2 linked regions of the Homo sapiens genome follow. The protein of the gene in region 1 interacts with the protein of each later gene in a pairwise test. Each region holds a gene or a part of one and is shown on either strand. Other genes may lie near its edges. The genes, in order: SNX24 and POU2F1.

Region 1 (4,202 bases):
CCACGAGATGACGAGTTTTTAAAAGCATGCTTGCCCTAAAACCTAGTAGGTAGGGTAGATAAATAAATCATACATACAGTGTATAGTCACCAGAGGCTTAAGGTAACCTACAAGCTGGGCTCTGAACTCAGATAGCTTATCGTCCGCAGAGCTGGTTAGTTACCTCAGGAGGTGCTGGCCAGAAGTGAAAGAAAGGTGTGTAGTCACAGGGCACAGCTAAGGCACAGTTTTGAGAGAAGGGCACATCCTGGAGCTGCAAATGTGTGAGTGCTGGGTTAGGAGGACGGATCTTCAGATGAGACTAATGTAGAGGGGTCCACATCAGGTAAGTTCCTAAAACGAGAAGCTGCCTTATCCCTCTGTTGCACGGCTCAGGGTCCCATCATAAAGTCTAGAGTTTGCTAAGCTGAAATGTCCTCTGCACTCAAGGACAAACGGAGTTAAGTGCAATTGTTTACAGTCCAAGAAAGCTCGCTGGCTGGTTTTTTCCTGGATGGCTGAGGTCACTTCTCAGTGACCTACAAGTCACGTCCACGTTTCTATTCTGCTCGGTGCGCTAACCTAAAGAAGAAACCCAACGTTTACTTGACTAACTTGATAATCAAGCCTCCCCCGCCGGGACACTTAATCTTTTAGGTACCTTCAGCCTACTAGACCCTGGTCCGAGGCACGGGTTCAGTCCTTTTTTTTTCCGTATTCTATTTTTCCCTCACAGTTAAAAAGTACTTCACAGTTAAAGGCGGCATTTTAGAACTGCAGCGTGAAGCCAGAGCGTTTGTCTTAGTGACCGGCCAACTTTCGGGCTCACTTTCGAGCTCTGTGGTACACCACCATTCTCAGATTCGACGTCTAACTCAGGAGACGCTGACCTTCGAATCGAAGGGAATTCGGAGAGTCTTGGTATAAGCCGGCTGGTTCACCGCTGTTAATGCCAGCCGAGAGGGAAAAAAAAAATTCAACCAACCAAAACAAAAGTTAAAAGCGCCACTCTTTCTATTCTTTGCTGTCTGGCAATCTCTTAATGGTGGCGTCTAGCAAACTGCAAATCAAGCTCCAGCCGGAGTCCGCAGGGCAGGGAGCGCCGGGTGCGGCCCAGTCCCCGCGCCCAGCGCGTTGGCGCGCACACCCCGTTTCTGCAGACTCAGGTTTTCTGGCCCCGCCTCTTTCGGGCCCAGCTGATCTCCACCGCCCGTTAGGCCCGAAACCCAGGCGCCTGGAGCCCTGCGCCCTCTGCTTCCGGCCCCCGGCACGCCCAGGGCGCGGGAGCGGCCGGGTCAGCCCGCAGACCTGAGTCCGGCCCGCAGCCTCGGGGCCCCGCGGGCGCAGCGGGGCGGGAGGCGGGGCGGCCCGGCCGTGGGCGGAGCGGCGGCCGCGGCCGTGAGCCTGCCCCCAACTCGCCCTCAGCCGGCTGGCCGGCGCGGCCATGGAGGTCTACATCCCGTCCTTTCGCTATGAAGAGAGCGACCTGGAGCGGGGATACACGGTAGGCGCGGGCCGCGGGCGGACAGGGCCCCGCGAGCCAGGCCTGCGGCTGCTGCGCCCAGGAAACACCCTTGGCCGCCGCCGCCTTGGCGCAGGGGGTCCCCTCGTTTTCTCTCCCCTCCCCCGGCCCAGAGGAAGGGCTGCGCCCTTGGCGCGGTTGTCAAGGAAACGGGCGCCCCTCCCGGGCACGGCGGCTGCGGGCGCCCCTAGCCCCTCGGGGTCCAACCCTCTCCTCCCGGACGAGCTGCAGTCCTCGGACGCGGCACTAGCCATTCTCCCCGCCGCCCGCCTTCGGGAGCCCAGGATGGGCTGCGTTCCTTTCTGGCACAGCTGCCCCCTCAGTCCAGACAGTAGTAGCTTCGCGGCAGATTCACGCTGGCTTCCAAGTTCTGTACAATTAGTTCAGCTGGAAAACCTGTTTTTTTTTTTTAAATCATAATTTGCAGCTGTTTATTAGCCAAACTAAACACGTGTATTGATTTTAGATGATTTCCAAAGATTTTTCTTTTTGAGTTGTGCAGTTCCATGAAATGGCAAAATTACTTGCTGAGCACCTGTTTCATACCTAGGACTGTGGTCACCGAGAAGTGTGAAACAGGACCCCTGCTCTCAAGAGTGAAGGGGAGGGCAGAGACCAGGGCATGGGCCCTTTGAGCAACACGTTTACTAAGTGAATTGTTGGTGGAGATTTCCCAATGAATTCAAAACATTCTTTCCTGGACAGTCATTGCTAGTGGGAGAAATGTCTGAGTGTGTGTACACCTTGGAAGAATTTACTTCCAGTTGTTAAAGAACCTGTAGGGTTGAAGAAAGATTGCAGGGCAGTCTGAAAGATTTGTTATTTTATTTACATCAATCACACACTTGCTAAACACCAGTTACATTACTTTGATGGAGAATATTTTAACCCCTCTCCCCTCCTCTAAATATTACTGGTATTTGGTGACAGTCTGTTTGGGCCATTGTGTTTTCTTAGTTGGGACTAAATTACCCTCTCAAAGGAAGATTTAGAATGAAAAACAGTGATTGAAAAAATAGTCCAGGAAGTCGGTGGGTTTTTAGAATTGAGTAGACTGCTGGATCCAAGTGTTCTGAAACAAGTTGTTAAAGTGCTTTCCTTGGGAAGGAAAATGCAGGGAGAGGGAGCTGTGTTCCATAGTGGTAGTTATTTATATAAATAATCCTTTCCAGTGCATTCACATTTCGTTAAATAGTCTGTATCTTCCTTAAAAACAAACAAACAAACCCTCGAGTTTGTTCAAGGCTTTTTTTTTTTTTTCTTGGAGATTTTATCCAAGTCTCTTAAGCCTAAAACCTTGCTTGTTGTTGCTTCTCCCAGGTATCTCACTTCTCCCATCAGCACTATCAACAGTCATGGAGGGCTTACCATCTTTGGGACATTCATTTAGGATCTGAAGATAAAAAGGCTGCTTGTTAGAGGCGTTGGCTTTCAAAGAAAAGATGAAGTTGATCTTACCGGTTCAAGCTAAAAGTTAATTACCTGCAGAAATAAGCACTTTGAAATAGACCATAATTAAGGCTCATTGCCCATTGTTGATTTTCTTCTATTAGACGAGCTGTGCTTTTCTCCCAAAGCTTTATGTATCTTTTTATTATTTGTATTTATGACCAGGCATGTGCCACACTCCAGGTTGTGAATTAAACTGATGTGGAAGGAGCTCTTTTTTGGACAAATTCGGGAGAGTTTGAAGATTGCTTATGTGATGAGAGTTTGCTCTTTAAATATTTGCTTAAAAAAAATCCTAACTCATCCAGATTGGGAGCTAAACTGTTAAAATCTCTCTCTCTCTTTTTTTTTTTGAGACAGTCTTCCTCTGTCACCCAGGCTGGAGTGCAGTGGGGTGATCTCAGCTCACTGCAACCTCTGCCTCCTGGGCTCATGTAATCCTTCCACCTCAGCCCCTGGAGTAGCTGGGACTACAGGCACATGGCACCACTCCTGGATAATTTTTAAATTTTTTGTAGAGACAGGGTTTCTCCATGTTGCCCAGGCTAGTCTTGAACTCCTGTGCTCAAGCAAACCATCTGCCTAGGCCTCCCAAAGTGCTGGGATAACAGGCATGAGCCACCACACCCAGCCCTAAAATACCTTCTGAAGGGATTTTTTTGCTTCTGTGAGTTTGTGAAGCAGTTATTAGATACTTTTCCCCTCTGCACAACTGGTTTTATGATTGTACAGCGGTTTTTCATTCAACAAATATTTACTGAGTGCCTGCTCTGTGTCTGTATTCTGGGTGTAGGGAATATAGCAGTGAATAAGCTATGAATATAGCAGCTTAAAAAAAACCCCAGAATTTAAAAAATATTTCAGTTTCCTAAATAAGAAGCTTGTAAAATAATGTACACTTTCGTGTAAAAAATATCTTTTTACTTTAGCGATTATGTTTGTGTGAATGTGTGTTTTTAAGAGCTAGGATCTTGCTCTGTCACCCAGGCTGGAGTGCAGTGGCGCAATCCTAGCTCACAGCAGCCTTGGACTCTTGGGCTCAAGTGATCCTTCCCCCTTGGCCTCTTGAGTAGCACAGGCATAAATCACCACAACTGGCTAATTTTTGTATTTTTTGTAGAGATGGGATCTCACTATATTGCACTGGCTAGTCTCAAACTCCTAGGTTTAAGGGATCCTCCCACCTTGACCTCCCAAAGTGCTGGGATTATAGGCGCGGGCCACTGAGCCCGACCTGTGTTTGTGTTTAAAA
Region 2 (4,022 bases), on another chromosome or scaffold:
TAATAATACAGTAATACAGGCCTGCCTAAATTGTACCAGTTAAGAAAGGAACCCCCAACACAATTGATACGATTATAAACACCTTGTTATGACTTAATGGCCTGTACAACAGACCCATAAAAATGATTTTTTTTTTTTAAGAAAAAAAGAAATTTAGACAAACAAGAAATCCCCTTCCTATATTGGAATTGGTAACCCACCTTAACTTGTCATCATGACTGCTGGAAATGATAAGTAGTCCTTTCACTTATTTTTGTTTGTTTTTGATTTTTTTGTTTCTTTTTTTTTTTTTTTTTTTAATTTTTGGTTAGAAAGTTCTCCAATCCATGAAGCAATCCTGAAAAGACAGTGTTTTATTACAAAATTAGGCAAATGTTCCGTCTCCATCCTTTCTTTCTTTTTCTGGTATGTGTGTATGGGTGTGTGTGGTTTTTTTTTTTTTTTCTCCCTTCTCTCCTTTGCCCTCACAACACGGCGAGAGGAAGCCAATCACATTTTTCAGTTTATTAACCTGGCTGGCAGTCCAATCACACTGCAGAGTGAAAAAGGCTTCTGGCAGCCCAGCTCTGCCCAGCTCACTGTGCCTTGGAGGCGGTGGTGGTGGTGGACGCAGCCCCGCTGGCAGAGGCCACTGTGAAGAGAGAGTTCTGGATGGACTCAGCAGAGGTGGAGGTGGCGTGAAGGCTGGCTACAGGTGCAGAGTTCCCTGCAGATGCTGCGGCGGCAGAGACCAAGCTAACAGGGTTGCTGGTGAGCAGAGAGAGGTTCTGAGGGTTCAGGAACAGAGGGGCAGTCACGATGTTGGGGGCTCCTCCCGCATTGGCAAATACCAGGTTCCCAGTTGCATCAAGTGATGTTATTGGAAGAGAGCCACCAGAAGCAAGAGCTACAGACAAAAACCCCCCAAAACAGGCAGGAATGAAAACATTAACATCATCCTGGAGAAGCCAAATAACACATCAAAAGTCTATCATTTTCCTACAACCCACCAGGAAAAAGTATAGCCCTTCACTGAATTTTTTTCCTCAAACACAGTGCTATATTGATACCAATTGTAGTTTATTTTTAATTTTGAAGAGCCTAAAAGACTGAAATGTCTAATTTAATGGGCACAAGCAGGGGTAGAAGACAGCTAATAACTGTCTAATGAATTAGAGTCATGTTCGTGTCTTGAAATCACCAGTTTATTTCATTTACCTAGACATATTTGATAAATCCAATAATTTTGTCTTTAATGAAGACTGCTGATTTTAAACTACCTCTGTTCAAAGGACAAACTAGCTGAAGTGATTAAAGCATTAACAACAGGAGGTGAGTGGTGGGCATTACAGCCTGAGGCCTGCCTCCTGTTAGATCAGTGGCGGCATTAGATTCTCATAGAGCACGATCTGAGGTGGAAACAGTGTCATCCAGAAACCACGCCACCACAATGTGGCTATGGAAAAACTGTCTTCCAGAAAACCAGTCCCTGGTGCCAAAAAGGTTGGGGACCACTGCTTTATATTATGATATACAAGATGAAAATCATCTTGCAAAAAGGCTTTAGTTCTAAAATAAATTATGTATCACCAAATAAAGTTAAAAGGTATAATTAATTTCTCACTTCCTGAGGCTAAATACTTGATTTCTATGACTTGTGCAAAGGAGAATGATGAATCTATTGTAGCAGGAAATTAGACATAATGATGTAGGTGGGTGATCTAAGTCTAGGATGTGCTTTAATGGGTGAGAAATTTTCTATGATGCTGTTGCTTCCCCAAAGAAGGCATCATCAACATTTTATTTAAAATAATCGAGACTCTCATTTAGTATCTCAACCTGTTGTCTGGCAACATTCCTAAATCTCTCTAGCCATATAACCTCACTCCTACATGTAGATTTGAGGGATTTTCTAACGGCATTACACATTTGATTTCTTACATAAAATATAGCTGAAGGGAATGCCTCTGACTTTGGCCTTGCTCATACAAATAGTACAGAACAGTGAGACAGTGCAGCTTGAAGTTTTTCTGAGATTCCAAACTTAGTATCTTTTCAGAGTGTCAATCATGCCCTAGGGAAGACATTTTGCCTTTGTAGTATCAACACAGCACAGAAACATTCAATAAAGCAGAAGAAAAAGTGATTTATCACAAATTCTATTGCAAAAAAAAATTATTATATAACAAAAGCTTTAGAGCTAACCAATTCAGGTATGATTTAGTCAATCAGAAAGTCAATATAATGTAAGGTAATCTAGGCCATGGTTTGGTTTTGTCTGTAATTAACATTCTCTAGTACACTGTTAGAGATATTACCTGTGAAATATTAATCTTAATTTAGGTTGGCTAATAGTTATTTTTGGCCCTGAGAATTCTCATTTATGCACAAAACACTTTAATTTTTTTTTTTTTTTTTTAGAAACAGGGTCTTACTGTGTTACCCACGCTGGGGTGCAATGGTTATTCACAGGCATGATCATAGCACACTGCAGTCTTGAACTCATGGCCTCAAGTGATCCTCCTGCCTCAGCCTCTTAGCAAAACTATTTTAAGAAAAAAATTCTAATTAATTAGTGATGTCTCTCAAATTGTCTCCCTGAATCACATAACAGTAAACATTTTTAGACAGAAAGCTTAGGTACTAAACAAGTGGAACCCTTCAGTATATGGAATGAATATTGCCCTGGGTAACATGCTAAAAGGCAAAAGGAACCCAGCTGAGCTTGGAAAAGAGACATTATAATCCAAGAGAATATATGTTCTACACTAACGGCGATATAAAAAGAGCAGAACTTAATGAGAATTAAAAGCACTCCTGAGGTCCACCTGATGTGTTCCAATGTTTGTTCATTACAGGACTTTCCCATGCACAGCTTTCTCAGGAGTGCAGCTGGGAACTGGAGAGTCTTACTTGGTCAAGTTTGCCTAGAGACGGGTTTTAGATTAATACTTGGGATAAACTTATCAGGGGAAAAAAATCTGGCTTCAAGTCTACTCACATAAGATCAATATTAGCATGAAAGTTCTGGTTTTTTACCATATACCAAACTAAGTATATTTCCTGCTTTTACTCACATACTAACACCTATACTTTTCTTACAAAGCTTTTTTACGAGGACATTTTCTTAGTTCTCAAGAACAAGTTAGTCAGCATTTGACTCTTTCCCATCACTTTTACCTCTAGCAAAGCAGACTTCCTCTATCTCTGTCTCAAGCACACACACACACACACACACACACACTCACACACACGTGCATGCCACCAAATTAAGAAAAAGGCTTCTACTGACCTTGAATAGTTGCCAGTGTACTGTTGCTCATTAGAGCTGGGCTGAGAGCACCGCTCAGGGTCCCTGGATTCAGACTGAGTAAGGCACCTCTGCAAGTCCAAAAGAGGAGTCACTTTATTACCATGCAGACGCAGGTCTCATTTTGACAACACACCAAAAGGAACTTACAAAACGAAAATCCAGCTGGGGAAATAGGTGGAAATATTTATTTTTCTTTACTCTTCTATGGTTTGTGCTTCTCAGTTACTGCTTTCCTGGATGCTTACTCATACAAACGAGGTTATGATCAGCACAAAATGTAAAACTTTTATAGTCATTTTGACCCTTCTTTGAAAGACTTATTTCTCTTTCTTTCCAAAATGAAAGAAACATTCTAGAGAAAAAGATATATTTACAAGATAATTCTTATAATGTGTGACAATAACAGTATAAAATTGAGACTCCTATTACATCTCTTATCTATGCTTGAGAATTAGGAAGTAGGCAGTTGAGAGAGTTTAATGGGGAAAATAAGAGTCAAGAATTCTAGGCTTTCTTCCTGGCCCCGTCACTAAGGTAATTAGTGACCTGGTATTTTGGGTCTTCATCTGGAAACAAAGGTATGACTACTGCCCTTCCCAGGGTGTTAAGAAACATAAACTCAACTATAATCAAAGTCCTTGTATGATCACAAAACAGCCCACTTCAAAGAGATTACTGCTTTAAAGACATTTTTTTCCCCATCTAAGTCAGTGATGTAAAGTCTCCCCTG

The links.
Region 2: the proteins of SNX24 (region 1) and POU2F1 interact in binary tests that used the Homo sapiens proteins (3 or more experiments, as listed by UniProt).

The regions. Positions count from the first base shown.
Region 1 is NC_000005.10:122,844,211-122,848,412, forward strand, and holds the start of SNX24 (sorting nexin-24), read left to right. Parts: upstream 1-1,402; 5' UTR 1,403-1,423; coding exon 1,424-1,483; intron 1,484-4,202. UniProt on the Homo sapiens protein: May be involved in several stages of intracellular trafficking.
Region 2 is NC_000001.11:167,412,364-167,416,385, reverse strand, and holds part of POU2F1 (POU domain, class 2, transcription factor 1), read right to left. Parts: intron 3,361-4,022; coding exon 3,272-3,360; intron 2,525-3,271; coding exon of another isoform or gene 2,508-2,524; exon of another isoform or gene 887-2,507; coding exon 576-886; 3' UTR 1-575. UniProt on the Homo sapiens protein: Transcription factor that binds to the octamer motif (5'-ATTTGCAT-3') and activates the promoters of the genes for some small nuclear RNAs (snRNA) and of genes such as those for histone H2B and immunoglobulins.